5 separate regions of the Homo sapiens genome follow, and all the other regions are linked to region 1. The links come from fine-mapping of genetic effects on gene expression. A gene starts in region 1. Each other region holds a variant in brackets. All regions are shown on one strand. Distances are between the middles of the regions.

Region 1 (4,148 bases):
TGGTATTACAGGCGTGAGCCACCACACCTGGCCTAAACCAGCTCCTCTTTAGATGAGGAAACTGAGGCTCTGAGAAGGGAAGACCAGCACACCTCAGAAGATATCTTCTCAGCATTATGTCAGGCAGATTGGGATTCGAGCCTGCTTTGCTACTCACCTGCTGTGCGACCTTGGACAAGTCAGTTTCCTTCTCTGAACCTCAGTTCCCTCATCCAGAAAACAAGCATCTCTCCCCTCCCTCCACTAAGCCACTGTGAGTAGCCAAAGACACAGTGGACAGGAAATGAGAATGATTAATACTTACGAGCACCCATTAGGAGCCTGTGTCCTTAGCTACTCATCTTGCCCACAATCCTCCTTATGAGCAGGATACTTAAGTAAAAGATGGGTTGATGAAGGGAAAGGGGGTTTGTTTGATTTTTTGGTATTGTTTAGAATGGAGAAAGATCTCAGAGATCTTCTAAAGGACCCTCAGATGGGTAAAGTGAGGATTGGACAGGCAAAGTGACTTATCCAAAGTCACTCAGTTGGTAACTGGGGAAGCTGGGATTTGAACTCAGTTGACCTGGCTCCAGAGCCCATGCCCCTAACTACTAAACAAAGGCCATTCACAAAGGAGTGTCCCCATAGAGTCCCAAACTCACCCCAGCTCAGCTGAAAACCACACGCCTCTCTAGTCCCTTGTCCCACTGTCACAGCAAGAACTGGAGCCTCTTGGGCCACAGTCTCCCCAACCCCATCCAATCCCACCTCCCAATTCTCCCACAGCCTCTGTCTGCTTCCTGCTCCGTTCCAGGAGTGACTGTGTCGCTGTAGGGCTTTCACACAAATGGAAGGCCCCAGAGGGCAACCCATCCTCTCTCATTTTCCTTCCCCTTTATCCTTGCTCAGACCCGATGCCAGGGCTGGAAAGAGAGAAGACACCAGCTGGACAATTCAGCAGTTATTTAAACCAGTCTGAGCCTTGGAATCCCAGGCTTTATTAAAACTGGACGACCCCTATGTCATGAGCATATAGTTGGGATTTGATGAGCTAGGACATGAAAAACCCGTGGCATAGTGGCTGGCATTCGGCTGCTGATCTTAAGAGTGGCACCTGGAGGCCAAAGGGCTGCCCAGCTCAGGCAGGCGATTTGCTCACTTGCTCACCCGCTTACCCTTCTCTGAGGCACAGGCTCTACCAACTCCTGCTCTGCAGGGACAGCCTCCAACCCACCTTCTGAGGATGTTCTGACTCTCACAGCGAGGCTGTGGCATAGGACTCCCAGGTGAGAGCGCATGCGGCCCCTGGTACATTTATAATCTGAACCTTGGCTCATCTTCCTAGTGGCCTGAGAGGTGAAGATGGAAAAGCTGAGGCTCTCTGAGGGGCTGGACTTCTTCTAGGTCATCCCCTATTAGAATAAGTGAACCTGAACTCAGGTCTCAGGTCTGGCTGAACTCAACATAGGGGGGCCATGGAGGATCACTGCCCTCTGGGAGGTGACACCAGGAGTCAGGGTGAGTGATGAGGCTGGGACTGGGGCCTCTGGACGCCCAGCCCAAGGCTCTCTATGTCACTTCCTGGCCGAGCATGGATGCTTGGAATGGCTTCTACGCCACTGAGTCTGTCTCCTAGTCCCTGTGCCCCGCAGGCTGGCTCTTGAGTCTTCTGTCTCTGCACGAAGCCATCCTCCTTTCTGCTGACCATGCGGCTACTACAGAGAGCCCTGCTACCCTCTCCCTTCTGGGTGAGTCTCCTTGGCCCACCCTACTCAATGGCTCGCTCACTGGGTGCCCTGGAGCCTCAATCTCCCCATCTTAAGTGAGGTTGAGACTCGTCTGGAGGAGCGAAGGACCCAGGGCGCCAGGCACCAGGCAGATGCCCCCAGAGCCGCCGCCCCCGGTCCTCCGGCCCCCGGTCTGCCCCGCAGCGCCTGCCCGGCCGCCCTGCCCAGCCACCCCTTGTACCTTGCTTCTTCCTTCGGTTCAGGGCGAGCATGTCCACGGCGTGGGCGACGAGCAGGAGCAGGCAGAGTGGCGCCCGCATCTGGGCAGCCGGATCCGGGCTGGCGCTCCCCAGGCGGCCCGACGGCCCAAGGGCCCCACGTCCCGGCGGCGGCACGGCGGGCGCGGGGGCTGCTGTGGGCGCGCCGGGCGCATCCGCCAGGCGCGGGTCGGTCCGGCCGCCAGGTCTAGTGAGGGCGTTGGCGGAGCCGGGGCACTGCCCTGGCGGGGAGGAGCCGGCGCGGCGGGGGCGGCGCGTTAACCAGCTCGGGGCCCGGGAGCGCGCGCGGGGAGGGGGCGGGGGTCACCCGGGTCGGGGCCCTCGAGTTCGATCTGTCCCGCAGCCGGCGGTCTTGCGTCTTTCCCGCCCCCAGCACTGCCCCCGAGCACGTGCACGTGCCCACCGCCAGCCACAGGTACGCACGCGCGCGCAGGTACAGATGCGCGGACACCCGGAGACCCGTACGGTCCCCCGCGCCCTCTCAGCGCCTGTGATTTTCTTTCCCTCCCCCCAGTCCCCTTTCTCTGTCTGTTCCTCCTTCTGGCCCTTAAGGACAACTCCTTGTCTCCTGCTTTCTCGGTCTTTCCGCGGCCCGCGCTCCCCTGCTCTGCCCCCGACCCTGCCTGGCTGTTCCTGCATCCTTTACTCTTGCCGGCCGTCTCTCTCTCAGGCTCACTGTCTGTGTCCTCCTGGCTGGGCCTCTGGTTCTCCCTTTTCTCTGTCTCTCCCTTCAACCCCATCTCTCCCCTTCTCCCCTCCTGCAGGGTGGGGTGTTTGCGGGGCTCCTGCTGCCTGGCTTTCTCTTTTTCTCTCTACTCTGTCTCATTCTTTTAACAGAGGCCTGAGCCCCTTCTGGCCACTAACCCTGAATGTTTCCTGTGCAGTCTGCGGGGATCATCTACTCCGACTCAAAGTGACCAGCACCTCATAAATCCACTTGTGACAGGGCTGGGGACCTGGACTGTGTTTCCTCCAACCTTATCACCAGGACTGGGAGCAGCTGGTTCAAGTTTAACCCTTTCAGAGCAAAATTCCTCCTTCAACCCGACAGCATGCTCACCTCTCCTGTCACTATAACCACCAAAAACAACAACAATCATGCTAGCTATCATTTGTGAGGCATATATGGTGGGCATTGCTAAGAACTTGACATATACTAGAGTCTTCAAAACAACCCAATGGTTTGGGTTTGTATTCTGAGTAATTCCACTTTTCTGGGGAGCAAAGGGAAGCTCAGAGAGGCCAAGTGACTTGCCCAAGGCCACACAGCAGGTCAGTGGCCATTCTGGTCCAGTGCCTGCCCCTCTTAGCCACTTCTCAGGCACAGACTCATCAGAATGGAAGAGGCCTTGGAGGGAGGCCTAGAGAAACTTACAGTTGACACTCTCTTGCTGAACAATTGTCCTTCCTTTTTCTTTTCTTTTTTTTTTCTTTTTTTTGAGATGGGTTTTCACTCTGTCACCCAGGCTGGAGTGCAATGGCGCCATCTCGGCTCACTGCAACCTCTGCCTCCTGGGTTCAAGTGATTCTCCTGCCTCAGCCTCCCAAGTAGCTGGGATTACAGGCACCTGCCACCACACCCAGCTAATTTTTGTAGTTTTTAGTAGAGACGGGGTTTCACCATGTTGGCCAGGCTGGTCTTGAACTCCTGACCTCAAGTGATCCACCTGCCTCAGCCTCCCAAAGTGCTGGGACTACAGACGTGAGCCACCCCACCCAGCCTGTCCTCTTTTTTCCTACATGTGGAGCTTGCTCCAAAAGAAATGGAAGGTAAATGCTGGTATCTCCTCCAGCTCCTTCTCCCAGTGCAATGAGGGACACTTGAAGGCATGGCAGGGGCAGGGGAAACACACAGAGAGTGTGGCAGCTGAAGGTACAGCCCTGGCCTGGCCATTCTTTCTGTGGGGCCCCAAGAACGCTGGCAGACAACACGGAGAACTTGGTGGAATGTCAGAGACAGCCCACCCAAAGTGCTCCATTTCACAGATGAGGCCACTGAGCCTTCAGGACTGGGGGGTGCCTAGATTAGGCCACCCAGTGAGTCAAGGACTGAGCTGACATGGGCATCCAGGTGTCCCATTGTGGTCATCACCATGGCCTGCAAGGACCTCTTGTTCTGATATCTCTGATCTCAGTCTTTCCCACTGCCCCACCCCTCTCT
Region 2 (4,148 bases), 20 kb after region 1:
GGGTTAAACAGCTGAGATCCATGCCTCAGCTTCTATAGGTGATAAGCCTGTCCTTCCTTAGGTAAAGAAAGGAAGGGGCGAACCGTCAGTGAGCACCATTCACATACCTTAGCCGGTTCAGCTTCACCACCCTCTGAAGGTGCCATCAGCAGCTCCCTTTTGCTGAAGAGTAAGCGGAGGCCCAGAGAGGTCATGTGGTGTGTGCTTGAGGTCACATGGCTGAGAGGTGGCACCAGATTTGCCCAACTCTCAAGTCCCATAGTCTAACGTTTCACTCCACTCAGATTCAACCTCCCAAGAAATTATTTGTTTGAGTACCTACTAGGCACCAGACTCAGAGTGAGAGGCAGTTGCAGATTCACTCAGGGCCAGTTTTGGAGGCCAGCTTCACAATCACCCAGCACAGCCCATCTTTCTACTTGTGAGGAAACAGAGGCTCAGTGAAGGAATGCCTTTCAGATCACAGAGAGGATGAAGCCAGGATATTCAAACCCAGCTTATTTTACTACAACTCTATATGGTAGGAAAGAGAAAAGCGCCCATACAATTTCAGTGGCTTGACGTGGAGCCTGGCAACAGATGTGTTCTTGGACTGTTGGCTATAAGACAAACCAGCTTTCCCCACTGACTGTCACCGTGTTTTGGGAGACAAAGCCTAGGACTTTGGTGTGTCCACCGTGGGTCAATAAATGCCCCCAAACAAGCATATCTTGCAAAAGTGGGGACTTATTAATTCATTGATTCGTTTCTTGATTGATCAATTGATTTATATGTCCCTGTTGGACAAAGGGTTTGAGGCAGCCTGGGAAGGAAGTGAAGTGTGGAAACTGGTCATCTTCTGTGCTTCTTACATTCCACTCATTGGGAACATCAAAAAATGAAAAAAAAATCCAGCTGCTACATAGCTGGGGAACAAATTCTTGGTATGGAAGTAATTCTGCTAAGGCTAGCCTCCTCAGAGTAATTCCAAATGCTTTTCCTATTTTCAAATTTAATTAGGAGACATTTCTGTAGTGTGAGTCATCATTTAATAATGGGGGGTGTTTATTAGGGAATGAGTGGAAAGAGAACAGGACAGCTGGATAATTCAAATCCCAGTTCTTCAAGTCTCTGGCTGTGTGATCTTGGGTGAGCCACTTCACCTCTCTGAACATCAGTTTTCTTGTCTTTAAATTGATATTTACCTGGCAAGGTTTGGGGAAGGTCTCAACTAGATTATGTACATAACAAGCTTGCCAGTGTTAGTACATAATAGGTGTTTAATAAATATTAACTGCCTTCTCTTCCCATTTATTTTCTTATTTGGTCTTCTAAACAACCTTGGGGACCATGATAGGTATGTTGTTTGCTTTCTCTAGCATGAAAACAGCCTCCCAGAAACTACTCAGCCAATCCTCTGAAATGGTATTTCCGGTCAAATCTGATGCACCTTCTGAGACTTTTTTTTTTTTGTCTTTTCCAGTAAAGCCAAGCACATAGTCATTGTTAGTTTTAAAAAATGTATTTGGATGGGGTATGAAGTTCAGAAGAGAAAGACATTCCTGGTTGGGTTATTCAAGCAAGGATCCCTGAAGAAGAGATGCTAGCATTTGGCTAGGTGATAGGAAGGGGACAGGAAACAGCAAAAGGCAGGATGTGGAGGCAGAATGAGTTGAAAGATGCTGTTATTGAAGGCGATGGTGGTAGTTTATCCCTGAAAGCCACCAAGAGCTCAAGAGCAGGAGGGAAGAAGATGAGTTTCTGTTGAAGAAAGACCAA[A/T]GTCACTCACTGGCTGATTTGTGCTTGGGAGGAGCATCTCTTTCCCCTGCTGATTGGGAGTCTTTTGTTTCCCTGGGACAATAGGCACTGGTCACTGAAGAGTGTGTCTGTCCTCCACACTTTCCCATGTTCCTGTCTCTGGGGAACTCCTCCCTGACTCCGAGAGACAGGATGGAGTTGTCAATCAAGATGTCTGTCACTTTGCCTACCAGGGGAGAGCTTTCCAAGTGGGGCCCTGTTTTTCTGCTGGGGCTATAGGGGAGGGTCTCCATCTTCATGTGTCAGGATGTAGCCTTGGGGCTGCTGGTGTCATATTTATGCCACATGGAATGAAGCTGTCTGAAGCAGGAAAGGATGATATTACCAAGCAAAAAGAGATGCAAAGCTGAGTGTGGACGGAGGCCTGCTTCTGATCCTGTCCATGTACTTGGATCAAACCATGCCTGAACTCCATTTGGTTTGCACCTTATGGGGCAATAAGGGAATAAGTAATTCTCTTTGTTTATTCAACAGGATTTCTGTCACTTGGCAATTCTGATTAATACAGACTTCTGATTAATACAGTTGGCAAATGAGAGACAAGTGATCTCTTCAGAAATGGACAGAGCAGGAAAGGAACCCACCAAGCATGGAGAGGTTGAATGAGAGTCTCTTCTTCCCCATTGACTCACTGCAGCCCTGGATCAGGTTGCTGCCCTTCTCTGGGACTCAGTTTTATCATCTGTGAAATGGGCTGCAGTGAGTGGGAAACAAAATCATTTATTTATGCCCAACCTTGTTGCAAAAATGATTTAAGACAGCTTACAAATGTATTAAAGCCAGAGATTAGGAAAAGAAAGAGATAATGAAATTGTGAGAAGGGGGAGAAAAGGTGAACTCAAGGATGAGGTTAGGTTATTGAATGCCTGCTGTAAAGTTCTGGACAGTTGCTAAAGGTGAACAGACAAGTTTGTTCTGAGATTCTTTGTAGCCAAAGCAAGAAAAAGAAAATGCAGTTACGTGGATTTGTAGGAAAAAAAAAAAAAACAACCCGGTTCCTGAGAAGAAGCCCAACTTTTCTTAGAATAAAAGTCTGAAACAATTTTCCTTGTGGTTCCCCATCAAAAGGACTTTGTGAAATACCATGAGCAAATATAAAAACCAGACAGGTTGAGTATCCCTTATCTGGAATGCTTGGAACCAGAAGTGTTTCAGATAACAGATTCTTTTGGATTATGGAATATTTGCATATACAGTCCTACCTCGGGTATAGGACCCAAGTCTAAACACAGAATTCATTCATGTTTCGTGTATACCTTATACAAGTTACCTGAAGGTAATTTTATTTTTCTGTGTGTTGTGCACCTGCATTTTGACTGCAACCTGTCACGTGAGGTCAGGTATAGAGTTCTCTACTTGTGGCATCATGTTGGTACTCAAAAATTTTGGATTTTGGAGCATTTTCAATTTCAGATTTTCAAATTACAGGTGCTCAACATTTAACAGGCTGGGGTAAATAGTTGCAACATATTTAATAGTCGGAGGATTAAAATCCACAATAAAATAAGAGCTCCCACAAATCAATAAGGACAAAGGAAAAAAACACTCCATCAATAAAATGGGCAAAAAGGGATAAGAACACAATTCACAATAGGGGAAATAGCTATCAAATTAGAAAAAAATATCAGAAGAATGGGTAATATCAGTGTTGGTCACAGTGTGGGGAAATAGGCATGCTCAGACACCTTAACTTACTTTTAGCGTTTCTCGTCACCTGACACACCATATATATACGTCTCTACGTGTTGGGGATCTCTCTCTCTGACCAGATTGCAAGTTCCATGAGAGTAAGGACTACCTCCTCATCACTGCTGAATTCCCAGAACCTAGAACAGTGTGCCCAGAACAGAGTAGATCCTTGATAAATATTTATCAAGTATGTGAGTCAATAAATAAATGAGTGAATGAATGGACAGTGTGTAAACTGGGGTCATATATTTGGCAGGCAATTTGGCAACATTTATTAGAATGAAAATGCACAAACACTGATGCAGACATTCCTCCTTTAGCCATACGCTCGACTGAGACATACAAATATTCAAAGGAATGGGTCAAAGAGTGTTTTTGTAGTGCTGTTTAAATGGCAAAAGTTGGAAATGACCTAAATGCCAAACAATACTACACTAATAAAGTTATGGTTTATTCTGACTGTGAAATATTGTGTGTTCTTCTTTAAAAAAATAGTGTTTTCATACTGATGTGGTCAGATCTCCAAGATACATTATCAAAAGAAAATAGCAAGTCACAGAACAATAATATGTAACATTTACGGTAAAAACAAAACAAACTTTCCAGGCGCAGTGGCTCACGCCTGTAATCCTAACACTTTGGGAGGCTGAGGCGGGTGGATC
Region 3 (4,000 bases), 27 kb before region 1:
TCAGCACAACTCCTGCAGTTTCACTGGGGACACTGAGGCCAGAAGGGGTGGAGCTTTCCCCAAAGTCAGGCAGCCAACTGCAAAGAAGCCTCAGTCCTCAGTTAGAGTTATAGCACTATTTGTTTTTTGTTTGTTTTATTGTTTGTTTGTTTGTTTGTTTGTTTGTTTTTGAGATGGAGCCTCACTCTGTTGCCCAGACTGGAGTGTAGTGGTGCGATCTCAGCTCACTGCAAACTCCGTCTCCCAGGTTCAAACGATTCTCGTGCCTCAGTCTCCCGAGCAGCTGGGATTACAGGCACCCCCACCAAGCCTAGCTAAATTTTTTTGTATTTTTAGTAGAGACGGGGTTTCGCCATGTTGGCCAGGCTGGTCTCGACCTCCTGACCTCAAAAAGCTACAGTATATGCTGAAGGCCAAAGAACCCAACAAGCCCCTCCCAGGCCTCATAGAGTGCTGGCCCACTGGATGGTGCTTAGCATCCTTCAATACCCTGGTCTTTGAAGGTCAATACCCTGGTCTTTGAAGGGTAGTGGCTGTTTCTGGCCTCATCCTCGACCCTGGCAGTTGGCTAGGATGCCCTCTTGTGCCTCTATGTTGTAATGGCACCTCTTGCTTTTTGACTTCCGGTAGCCTGTCTGGTGTTTCGTCATGTCTCTGTAACTCATTAGAAAAAGCAGTGCTACTGCCTCTCTCTACCCCCTGCCCTAAAGTCACGGGTGCAGGCGCTTGAATGTTCATTCTGTGAATCATCAGTGATGACAAGAGTCTGTAGAGTGCTGCTCTAGAAAGATCCAAACTTGAAGGTTCTTAAACTTGACTGTGATAACAATCTCCAGAGAGGCTTGTAAAGCGTCTGCTGTGGGCCAGGAATGTGCACTTTAACAAGTCCAAAATAAATGTAACAGAATTTTGGAAGTGTCTTCCCTGTTCACAGTTTCCTTTCCCTGAGAACTGGCCCCAGTAATCCTGTTTGTAGGGCATGACTCTGACCCTAACCAATGGCTGTCTCTTCCAGGATGGGCCAATTAGACCATCTCTCTCTGGGCTGATGGACAATGGTCTGCGCTGGCCTTGACCTAAGGCGATCTGCAGGTGGGAGGGTAGCCTGTTCCAATGCACATGTGTGAGAAGCCTTGGTGGGCACTAGCTAACAGAGGCTCTGCTCCTCTGCACTCTCTGGCATTGAGGTTCGTGTGCTGCCATATCCACCCAGATGCACTTAACCTGGGCTTGGCCAATCAGAGCATCAGGTCCCCTTGACTACAGTGGTTGTAGGTTCAGACACAGGCTCACATCCCCACAAGAGCTAGTCTTGGGGTTTTTGCTGAGGTCAATGGATGTGTGTGGAGATGTGTGTGTTTTCCTTTCCTCTCTTTGGATCTAGGAGGATATAGATCAGAGCTGGTGGGTGCCACATGAGGGAAGAGCCTCTGGAGAATGGAGGCCATACAGCAGAAACAGAGCCAAGAGACACAGACAAAGACCAAAAAGAGTCATCTGTGCATGTGGATCCACCCTGGGGATCCATAAATTCTCTTTTTTTCTCAGGTCACATTGAGTTAGGTTTTCTGTCACTTGCAACCAGATGATTCCCGACTAATACAGAAGTAGAGAGAGAAAAATAAATCAGATGCAGAGAGAGAAGCAGCAACCAGAACCTCACGGGCTCCTTGAGACAGAAAAAATTTCTGACTGCCTCCCAGTCCTTCCCAAAGCTTGGCTTGTCCCATAGCTCCAAATCCAGTGACTTTTTCACTTGAGCTGGTTTTCTTCTGTCAAATTACAATAAAAATGGATGTAGCTCACTAGACAGCGAACAGATCACGGTGGAGCAGCGCTGCTTTGGCGCGGATGAGGAACCTGGAGCACCACCTATCCAACCTGATCACCCTGGTGCTCCAGGGGACACTGAGGTTCCAGGGAGCACACTTTGAAACCCCCTGGGTCCTTCTACACATCTTGGCCTCTGTCGCTGTCCTCTCCCAGCTGAGATGCACATTTTAAAAGCATTCAAGCTCTAGTTGCAACCTCCCCAAGTTTTCTTGGGCCATCACA[G/A]TGGATGGCAGGCACCCCATGTAACTTCCATTAACAACTGTCTCCCATAATCAAGACCATCCTCCCTCAGTCAAAACACCAGTAGGCCACAAAAGCATGGCCCTGTGTTGCTCCAGCAGCTGGAGAGGCTTAGAATGAAATCTGAGTCACTCCATGTTTCCCCAAGCACCCGAGGGATGAGTCCAGATTTGGATGTCCATTTTATGGAGAATGAGAGTGGAATCAAACACACCAGATTTGACAGTTTGCAAAGTGATAAAGGCTTATGACAACTCTGAATGCGTGCATTAACCCAGGGTTGAGTGATCCATTCATTCATTCATCGACCCATTCATTCAACAATTACTGAGCCCCTATTCTGGGTAAGGTCCAGTGCTAGGACTCAATGGTTATGAGCTTTGGGGCAGTTGTGTGACCTTGGGCAAGGTACTTTACCTCTACAAGCCTCAGTTTTTCCAGCTGTAAATGGGGATAATAATGCTTATCTTGCAGGGCTGTTGTGATTAAAGGAGATGGTACGTGAAAAACTGTTAGCTCAGACCACCTGCAGCAGGCATCTGATAAACTGAAGCTACCATTATTATATTGAGAATGATGTGTTTTCTGCCCTCAAGGGACTTAAAAATCTAAAGACGTGTAACAATGCAGGTTCCCAGGTTGATATCCTGGCCCCATCACTCATTGAATGAGATCCCTCGTCTCTGTGGGCCTCAGTTTCCCCATCTGAAAAATTGTGGCAGCAATTCCTACCTCCACGTGATTTGTTATGAGGGATGTGCAAACCAGCAAGCACTGGCACACAGTAGGTGCTCCTCTGTAAACCTAGGTTCCCTCCCTGTTCCCTCACCATCATGACACACAGTGGGACTGTCAACCAACATCTGGACCCTTGTCCTCTTTCCCAGGTGAGCAAACAAAAGCCAGAGATGTTGGTGAGGCTGGAAGGAGGCCAGCAGGGTCCAGGGACATGGTCTTTTGCCCTCTGGATGGTGAAGTGCTCAGGGCAGAGATACTAGCCAGCAGCTTTGGTCCTAGGTGAAGGGCAGGCTTATTCCTTCTTTTGGGAATAGGGAATAACCTGTGCCCTTCAAATAAGGGTCCCTAAGCTCAGGTTCACCCACATCCTGAGAACTGCCCCAAGCACCTTGTTTCAACAGGAGTCAACGGCTCAACATGTGCAAGTGATCGCTGTATTTTTTTTTTCCATTTCAGGGTTTTGAGTGAACTTAGGGTCATCTCTGCCATATCATGCCTTCCATCTGCCTTCACTCTGCAGAACTTCCCTGAGGGGTCAAAAATGCAGGGTGACATCTGGGACGCTGAAAATGTCATGTTCTCCTAGGCAAGCTCGTCTCCTCAGTAGCCCAGTGAATCTGTCATTGAAATTTCCTTAATACCCAAGCCAGAAAGCCTAGCCCCATACATTTTTTTTAAAAAAAACAAGACTAATTTGGATAGATTTCTAGCATTTAAAAAATCAAGAGATTTCACATTAAAAAGCTGGAATTTGAACTTCTCTGGAAAAAGTCAGAACATCTACCAACACTGGGTCTGCTGTCACAGGGCAGTGAGTGGTTAGAGTTACATAAATAAGGCATATGTTCCCCAGGTTACTGCAGACCCTACCCCTCCCTATTGTATTTCAGATACTGAGGGAAAAGGTCAGCTGCCCTATGTTATCATCCTTGAGCTACATCTTAACACCCACTTCACTCACTCACAATAGAAAACAATGTAGAGCAGGGGTTCTCAAACTTGGGCATGCATCAGATTCACCTAGAGAGCCTGTTAAAAACACAGGCTGCTGGGCCTTACCCTAGAGTTGCTGATTCATTAGGTCTGGGCAGGGCCTGAGAATCCGCATTGCTAACAGGTTCCCAGGTGATGCTGACCTTTGCTGGTCCTGGGCCCACACTTTGAGAACTACTAGTGTGGAACAGGGTTA
Region 4 (4,148 bases), 59 kb after region 1:
TAGCCATCCCTAGGCCTTGGGGTGCTAAGCAAGAAAAAGGCATAATTTCCATCCTCAAGGATCTCACAGTCCAGGGGAGGAAGCAAAACTCATAGGCATTCATTCGACACACATTTATTCTCTGTATAGATATGAGTAAAATATTGCATATCCTCAAGGAAAGGGGGAACTCCCCAGCTAATGGGACAGACAGATGAAGAACAAGTAAGTACAGTGTATAATGAGGTGACAGAAGCCACCACTCATTGCTCTGACTAGGAGGAAACAACAAGATGCCTTAGACTCTTTTGGCCAAGGAAAGACACACTAGCTGTGTGAATGCCAGGTGAGCTGGCATCATTTGTCTGGGATAGGGTGCAGTGGAGGCTGTTGAGGCCTGACAGCTTCCCCCTTCACCTTACTCCATTGTTTGCCAGGCTCATGCCTGGGAGAACCATATGCATAAGAAGACCTGGATCTTATAGGAAGAAGAAGTGGAAAAGCCAATACCTGACCTCCAGGAATCAGAATTTGTGTTGCAGGTTGGGTTCTATGCAGGCAGACACGAAGACAGAGTTTAGGTGCAAGGTGTTTATTAGGAATCAATATCTGGAAAAGAAAGGGGCAGGAATCAGGGTTGAGGAGGAGGAGATACTTAACTGCAATGTGACCCAGTAAAGCGTTGGTCAACATGGTGAGGAAGTTGGGAGCAAGAATTATCCCTCGATAGACACCCCGTTCTACATGATGTAATTATTATGAATTACATGCCTGTATCAAAACATCTCATGTACCCCATAAATATATATATACCTACTATGTACCCACAAAAATTAAAATTAAAAAGAGTTACCCCTCAGAGAATCCCAAAAGATATCAAAATATCCAGACTTTTGTCTCAGCCCCTTCATTTTGATAGTTCACTATTCACCAAATACAGGTTGCCCCAGGAAGGGCATGGCCTGGGATGAAGTGGCCCTCTCAAGCTGAGGCTAACCTTGAAGGGGCTGAAGCTGAAGGCTCTCTGCTGACCATGCTTCCCCCGCCTTCAGCTGTCAAGTCCTTCAGGGTCAGCTCAGTTCTGAGTGCCACTTTACTTGGGGTCACTTCTTTGATTCCAAGCAGTTTAACATAATGGCAACCACAGTTAGGGAGACCTGTCCTGGTGGATCAGGGTGGCCCAAGCTAAGGTCTGGAGGAAAGACGACCCTCAAGAAAAGATGTCTCCTCTGTCCCTCCACCCCATTCATACTAAGGGCCATGGGTTCATGGAGAGGGTTTCAGATGGGCACATTATAGGGCTGAGGCTAAAAGTCTCTTTGAACCAACTCACACTTGTACAGAAGTGATGCTGTGAGGACTAATGAAAACAAGTAGCATCTACTGCATGCTTAACATACACCAGGCACTATTCCAAATTTTTTACCCACATTAGTCATTTAATTCTCACATTACCCTATCAGAGGAACAATGATGAGCATGGGTATGTAGACCAGAAGGAGCTAAAACCCTAGAACACAAGCAGAGGACACCAGTGAGCCCAGGAAAGGCCCTGGGCCCCTGGAAGCAGTCTCCTCATCCGCCTGCATGGGCCAGGGTTCAACAGAGGCACCATGTGGCTGCAAGAGGCAGAAATGGCTGCAGACTGAGCTCTACTAGTTCCTTCCACTTGATGTTTGAATAAAGTCCCTGGAAAACTTGGGGAGATGGGATGAGTATCTCAGCTGGGAACACACCAAGACTTCTTAATAAGGCATGGAGAGGCTCAAGCAATTGATTGGAAAGAAAAAAAAAAAACAAAACTAACTCAAGTTGGTAGATTTTACCTGCCATGAGATGTTTGTGAATAGCAGAGCACAGGGTAGAGAGGTCACTGCCAAAGAGCAACTCCCAGTCACCCTTGACATGTGGCATCCCCTCTCATGCCTCCACGTCTGCATAAGCTTGGTAATCTTGTGCCCTCTGACACCATTCTCC[C/T]ACCTGTCACCCCACTCCATTCTGCCCATCAGGATAATGCTGCCACATCCTCCAGGAAGCCTTCTCTGGCTGTCCTTCTCCATGACGCTAGGCTCCCCTTCCATCTTCCCACAACTTCATGTACCTCCCTCTATCATTTTATTTATCAATCATTCTAGATTTTATGTGTTTATGACTGACTTTCCTCCTAGATTATGAGGCAGTATGATTATATTATTTACCTTTCCCACTGTCATGCATTCCCATTTATCTCACTCGGCGATTGTCACAACAATGCTGCAAACTAACTACCACTAAGCTCAGTGGCTTAAAACAATAACTTCTTCTCACTCATGGGTCTGTAGGTCAGCTGGGATTCTGGTGGTCTAGACTGGGCTGGGCTCCAGGCATGCATGCGGATCTGCTCCACGCGTCTCTCATCCTCCTTGACCCACAGAAGACAGCTGGAAGCAGGCAGGACCTCATAGGCTTTAGCTCAGAGCTGGTGTGCTGTCACTTCTGCCCATGTTCCATCAGCCAGAGCAAGTCACATGGCCAAGCTCAACATCAATTAGATGTGGAGAAAATTGATGAGTCATGTGGCAAAGGGCATGGATATAGGAAAAGGTGAAAATTAGGAATAGTATGATTTACTGTGACACAGATGCTTTCTGGTGAACACCAACCTCTCCAAACTCATTTCAAGACCCTTCCTCATCAGCCCAGTGCTCAAGGTCAATTCCTGCAACCTTCAGCCCTTTGTAGCCTTTCAGTCTTTTGAACACACTGTACTTTTTGTCTGACATACACCTTTCCCATCCCTTTCAGATCTCAGCTGAGATGTCATCTCCTCAAAGATTTGCATGGCTGTAGGCTTTGCCACCAGGAGATAGTGACCCAACAAACAAGCTTGTATGGGTGAGTCCCTGAATCCAAACCCAACCCTGCCTGGCCTTGCCACTCACTGCTGTGAGGCCCTAAGAAAATCTTATCTTTTTTCTACTGCTGTTTTCTTATCTGCCAAAAGTAAATAAAAACATCTTCCCATATCAGTTAGAAATGCTTGCAGCTGCAAGTAGCAGAACCCCTAATAGTAGCTAAAACAATAATATCTCACAAACTAGATGCCTGGAAGCAAGAAGCTCCAGGGCTGGTTTATTGGCTCAGTGATGTAAGGACTAAGTGCTCACTCATACCCTCTCATTTCTCCTCCTTCCCTTTCCCCATTCTACTAGGTTGGTGCAAAAGTAATTGTGGTTTTTGCCATTACTTTCAATGGCAAATTGTGGTGCAAAAGTAGTTGTGGTTTTTGCCATTACTTTCAATGGAAAAAACAGCAATTACTTTTGCACCAACAGCAAAAACAGCAATTACTTTTGCACCAACCTTAATATTTCCACAGTGTCTTCCCTAAAGTCTCACAGAAGGTTCCCTTTACATTTTACTGGGCAGACATGGATCATATGGCCACTCTAGCAGGAAAGTGAAGTGGGAATGCCAATATCAGGGTTTTGTTGTTGTTGTTGTTCAGCCTCCTTTGGGGGAAGCAGCAAACGAGAAGGGGGTAAGAATTGGCTGCTGTGTAATCAACTCACAATATCTACTCCTGATCTAACTTTCTACCTCACAGAATTTTTGTGAAAATTTGGATTGCCAGTAGCACTCTGAAGGCCACAAGCTTATAAAATAATAATCTACTTTTATTATTATTCATGACTTATTAAGAAAAAATCAATATTGGAAGAGAATAATACTTCGCATTTGTTCAACAATGAACTTTCCGAAGGTGAAAGGAAAAGCAATTACTGTCTGAGCCCAGCCTGAGTCCCAAGTCCATGCCAAGCGCAAGCCTGCAAGACCATTTCCTCCTCCAGGGACTTGCTTCGATTGTGCTAAAACAGCTTCTGCCAAGCCAACCAGGATTGCATGCTGCCAAATCCAGTACTCATTTTCCTGATCTTATTTTATTTGAATTCCCTGAGCATTCAATCCAGTTGGCAGCACCCTCCTTGATACATGATCCTGTCTGGGCTTCTGTATGCTCACAGCCCTGGTTGTTCCTCAGTCTCCTCTGCTGGCTTCTCCCCATCTACCTGGTTTCTAGATGCCAGCTGACTCAGGACTCACATGTGAGCTCCTCTCCTCCTTCCCACCCCCTATGCTCTTTCTGTCTCAGGTTTCTCAAACCTTAGCATGCATCACCGTCACAGGGA
Region 5 (4,148 bases), 45 kb before region 1:
TAAAACAGCAAGGACTAGAAGACCCACTTGCGAGAAGGCTTCTTCAGCTACAAGTCTGGCTGGAGGATCCATTCCACCTTGTGGATGGTAGGTTGGCTATGGCTATGGGTGAGGGTGGGAGTCATGGGGGGCTGAGTGGGAGCCATCAGACCCCAGGGCTGAGTCCACATGTTCCAGGATCTGACAGCTTAGGAGGCTTAGCAATTCCAGGGCTGGCGCCCCCATGAATAGCTTCTCCAGGATTTTGCAAGTGCTGTTTCCTCCCCCTCCCCACCCATCTCATTAACACCTCGCACTCTTTAATTCTCAGCTTGGCTATCTGGTCCTGGAGGAGGAGCTCCCTAACCCCTGTATGCCTTAGACAGGATATGCTAGATCCTGTCCTCATGGAAGGTCTTATCACATTGTTGGAATTGACTGTCTGCAGACTGAACGCTTGGAGGACAAGGCAGGGTCTTTATCACCAGCACCCAGGACAGTACCAGGCACACAGTAGGCACTTTATGCATATTCACGGAATGAATGAATGGGTGAGACTGATGGATTTTGAATGACTTGAACTTGAGCCTCAGTTTTTCCTCCTAGAAGTTAGCTGGCAACGTAGCTGTGAAGGTGGCAGGAGATAGGTGGGAAATGCGAGGTTAGTAAGAGGAATTGGTAGAAAAATGGTAGTTATGATTTATGCTGAAGAGAGAAAAGCAAAGGAAATTAGATATTGCACCTGAAATGCTTAGCTATGTTTGGTGCAGAATAGGTGCTCCATAAATATAAGATGACGTCATCATCCTCATCCTCATCATTACTATTATTTGTATTATAAGAATGCACATTTCCTGAGTTAGAAGGTCCACATACGATGGCTTGAAATTTTCCTCTGGGCTGGGTGCGGTCGCTCACACCTGTCATCCCAGTACTTTGGGAGACTGAGGCAGGAGGATCGCTTGAGCCCAGGAGTTCAAGACCAGTCTGGGCAACATAGCAAGACTCTTTCTCTACAGATAATTTTAAACATAGCTGGGTATTGTGGTGTGCATCTGTAGTCCCAGTTACTTGGGAGGCTGAGGTGGGAGGATCAACTGATCCCTGCAGGTCGAGGCTGCAGTGAGCCGGGATCATGTCACCGACCTCCAGTCTGGGCGATAGAGCTATTACCCATCTTAAAAAACAAACAAACAAAGACAGAAAAAAGAAATTTTCTTCCAAGCGAAAATGGAGAGGTGTAATCCCCATAGGTCACCTGGGCCAGATGTCTGGGCAGGAGGTCATGCTCTGAGTCAGATTTCCCTTCTGTGCAAGGAAGGACCTGGGACAGGGACCTCTGAGTCTGACACTCTCTGCACAGCTGAGAAGGCCATTCAGCTGAAGTCCCCATTGCAACTGTTGTCCTTCAGCCTGAGGCAGTCAGTCCTTCGGTCTGAGGCAGCCTGTCCCTTGCCCTCGGCTACCCTCCACCCTGCTCCAGTCCTGCTAGGAGAGAACCGCAACACGACCCCGTTTCAGAAATGCGCTCCTTGACAAGCCTGGCTGCGACCTGTTCCTGGTTGACTGCCG[T/C]CATCCGGTGGCAGCATGTGGGAATGACATGCAGGGCTGTGGTGAGGATGAGGATGGAGTGAGCGGGTGGGGGGAACTGCAGAGAGGGCCCTAGTGTGGCCCAGTTGGAAGCGGTGACAGGAAGAACCCACCAGGGATTCCTCAGCTCTGGCCAAGGGGTTGTTCTCTCCCTCTGGCATAGCATCCAGAAGGCCAATAGCAGCGGAACCTCCCCCTGGGCTCTGCCCAGACTGCCTCTCTTTGGCTGTGTGACCTCACCCTGTTTCTGAGCTTCTCTGTGAACTTCTCCAAGCTTGGCTTGTAAGAAGGGAGTGGGCGATGCCCACCTGACAGCAGAGTCTCCTTCCCAGAGAGGCCCCTCAATCCTCCAGAGAATGTGGGAGAGGCTGGGATTTGAAAGGATTGGAGCTGGGGGCAGGGAACGTCTGAGATGGAAAGGTTATAGGAGGGGCTTAGGCCCTGAAGAAATTTCATCCTGTAATTTGAAAATATTAAAAAACCACCACAGCCCCCAGCTGAGGACAGAGGACCAGGCCCCCCAAGAAGAAAGAACATGGCCAGGGAATTGCAGTACTGGAAACTTCTACCCTTATGTTGGTCTTTTAGAATTGTGAAAATTAGAACGTTCAGCATCCTAAAACTGGAATCTTAACAGAAAACACTATATAGTGTATGTATGTGTGTGTGTGTGTGTGTGTGTATATATATATATATTTATATATATATTTATTTATATAGGGGCTGGGTACAGTGGCTCATGCCTGTAATCCCAGCACTTTGGGAGGCTGAGGTGGGAGGATCATTTGAGGCCAGGAGTTCAAAACTAGCCTGGGTAACATATTGAGACCCCCATCTCTACAAAAAATAAAAAATTAGCTGGGTGTGGTGGTGTACACCTGTAGTCCCAGCTACTTGGGAGGCTGAGGCAAGAGGATTGCTTGAGGCCAGGAGTTTGAGGCTGCAGTGAGTTGTGATCGTACCACTGCACTCCAACCTGGGTGACAGATCAAGACCCTGCCAAAAAAAAAAAAAAATTAAAAAGATACACACACATACACACACACATACAGACTAAACTCTGTAGAATCAGATCATTGAGCCTTGAGGTCAGAATCAGAATTGCAGCTGCAAATCTAGACTCAGCCCTCTGAGCTGGAAGTCATCTGAGAGCCACCTCTCCCCTCAGCTTGTCCTGGAAAGAATGTTTGCTCTCACTGCCTGCTCCTAAACTTGTTTGCAATGAATAGATCTGGGGGAGGGCCCCAAAACCTGAATTTCTAAAAGGCTCCCCAGGGGATTCTGTTGTTGGGTCTTCCAGATTTCGGCAATAGATTTAATTTAGCCAGGCTTCCTCTTCATCACATTCATCACATGGGAAAACTGAGGCCCCGGAAGGGGAAGTGACTTGACCTGGACCCCATCAGATAGCTGGTGACAGGCTGGAGCTCCCACCTGTGCCTCCCAATGCCAAGGCCACTCTCACCAGCAGCCCAGGGTGTTTAGATGGCCCCGTGGGACTGTCAACCTCCTAGGTACCCCTGGTCCCTGAGACATCTGGTTCGTGAAACTGCGAGGTTCTGGGGATCGAGGTGTCACCCTCTTCTGCCTCTGGCTGAGTCTGCTTCTTGAGAGTAGCCTGGAGGGGCTGAGGGCCCCTCCTCTTTTATCAGCTCCCCCCAAGCTGAAACCCCACCCCAATCCCCAATACACTCTGACCCCTCTCAGCCCCAAGCATTCCTGTGAAAACCACTCCACATGTTTTAAATTCTGCTACTCCAAACTCAGCAGTATCATGGTTTTGCAACACCCTCTTGATGCTCAAGAAGCATTTACAAGTTTCTTTTCCCTTTATTAAGAAAGTTTTAAAAAAAAGTTAGGGTCTTGAAACAATAACAACGGAGCATTTCAGAGGCACAAACGTTTGCAGAAGAGAAGCTGGTGGCCTGGCCAGGCGGAGGAGGGGGCTCTAGCTGTTCTCGGGGAGGTGAGAGCAGGGAAGTCAGAGAGAGGGTGGGCCTGCTGGGAGGGGGGGGTTCAGGCCAGGGCTCCCCAGCTGCCAGGTGGAGGGCAGGTCTGAGGGTGGGTGCTCTCTTGGGGTCGGGAATGTAATATTTCATCACCTAGAGCCTCTCCCCCAGCCTGCTGACCATCTTCCTTCCCCAGGCCACCCCTGGGCCCCTTGGAGCTCCGACTCTTGCTTCTCCTGCCCATTCCTGTCCCAGTCACGGAGCCCTACGTGTTCAGGCCAACCAGTCACGGCAAATACAAATCCCGTTTCTGAGGATTCCGGGGAGCAGAGCAGGAAGGGGGTGTTATGATGGCAGAAGGATAGGCAGTGAGGACAGACTTGCTTCCAAGCTGGGTCTGACCTGGAGACTCCTCCCAGCGTCGTTCCTGCCTAGGGCGAGGGGCGTCACAGCGAAGCACAGATGCTCAAGTCACTGGTGGTGGGTGTGGGCGAGTGTGGTGGTGGGTGTGGGGGAGTGTGGTGGTGGGTGTGGGGCAGTGTGGTGGTGGGTGTGGGCGAGTGCGGTGATGGGTGTGGGCAAGTGTGGGGGTGGGTGTCAGCGTGTGGGGGTGGGTGTCAGCGAGTGTGG

Direction of the effects. Alleles are on the strand shown, and positions count from the first base shown. SD is a standard deviation of normalised expression in the study named. Not every link is listed here.
For the expression in anterior cingulate cortex of the gene that starts at base 2,176 in region 1, allele T in region 2 goes with a lower level than allele A (moderate effect, 0.48 SD a copy in GTEx).

The links. PIP is the estimated chance that this variant, and not a neighbour inherited with it, causes the effect.
Region 2: its variant is fine-mapped to the expression of RSPO4 in anterior cingulate cortex (GTEx, PIP above 0.99).
Region 3: its variant is fine-mapped to the expression of RSPO4 in cerebellum (GTEx, PIP 0.99).
Region 4: its variant is fine-mapped to the expression of RSPO4 in prefrontal cortex (ROSMAP, PIP 0.95).
Region 5: its variant is fine-mapped to the expression of RSPO4 in tibial artery (GTEx, PIP above 0.99). The same link has a PIP of 0.9 or more in ovary.

The regions. Positions count from the first base shown.
Region 1 is chr20:1,000,136-1,004,283 of GRCh38, forward strand. RSPO4 (R-spondin 4) reads right to left here and starts at 2,176. Exons shown (of 5, transcript NM_001029871.4): 1 at 1,951-2,176. The coding sequence starts at 2,029.
Region 2 is chr20:1,020,601-1,024,748 of GRCh38, forward strand. No RefSeq gene overlaps it. Among named protein-coding and RNA genes, the nearest start is that of RSPO4, 20 kb to the left of the region's middle. The variant A/T (reference allele first, on the strand shown) is at 1,759.
Region 3 is chr20:973,322-977,321 of GRCh38, forward strand. All of the region lies in intron 1 of RSPO4 (R-spondin 4), which reads right to left. Among named protein-coding and RNA genes, the nearest start is that of RSPO4, 27 kb to the right of the region's middle. The variant G/A (reference allele first, on the strand shown) is at 2,056.
Region 4 is chr20:1,058,741-1,062,888 of GRCh38, forward strand. No RefSeq gene overlaps it. Among named protein-coding and RNA genes, the nearest start is that of PSMF1, 58 kb to the right of the region's middle. The variant C/T (reference allele first, on the strand shown) is at 1,957.
Region 5 is chr20:955,073-959,220 of GRCh38, forward strand. It overlaps RSPO4 (R-spondin 4), which reads right to left. Exons shown (of 5, transcript NM_001029871.4): 5 at 3,380-4,148. Among named protein-coding and RNA genes, the nearest start is that of ANGPT4, 41 kb to the left of the region's middle. The variant T/C (reference allele first, on the strand shown) is at 1,552.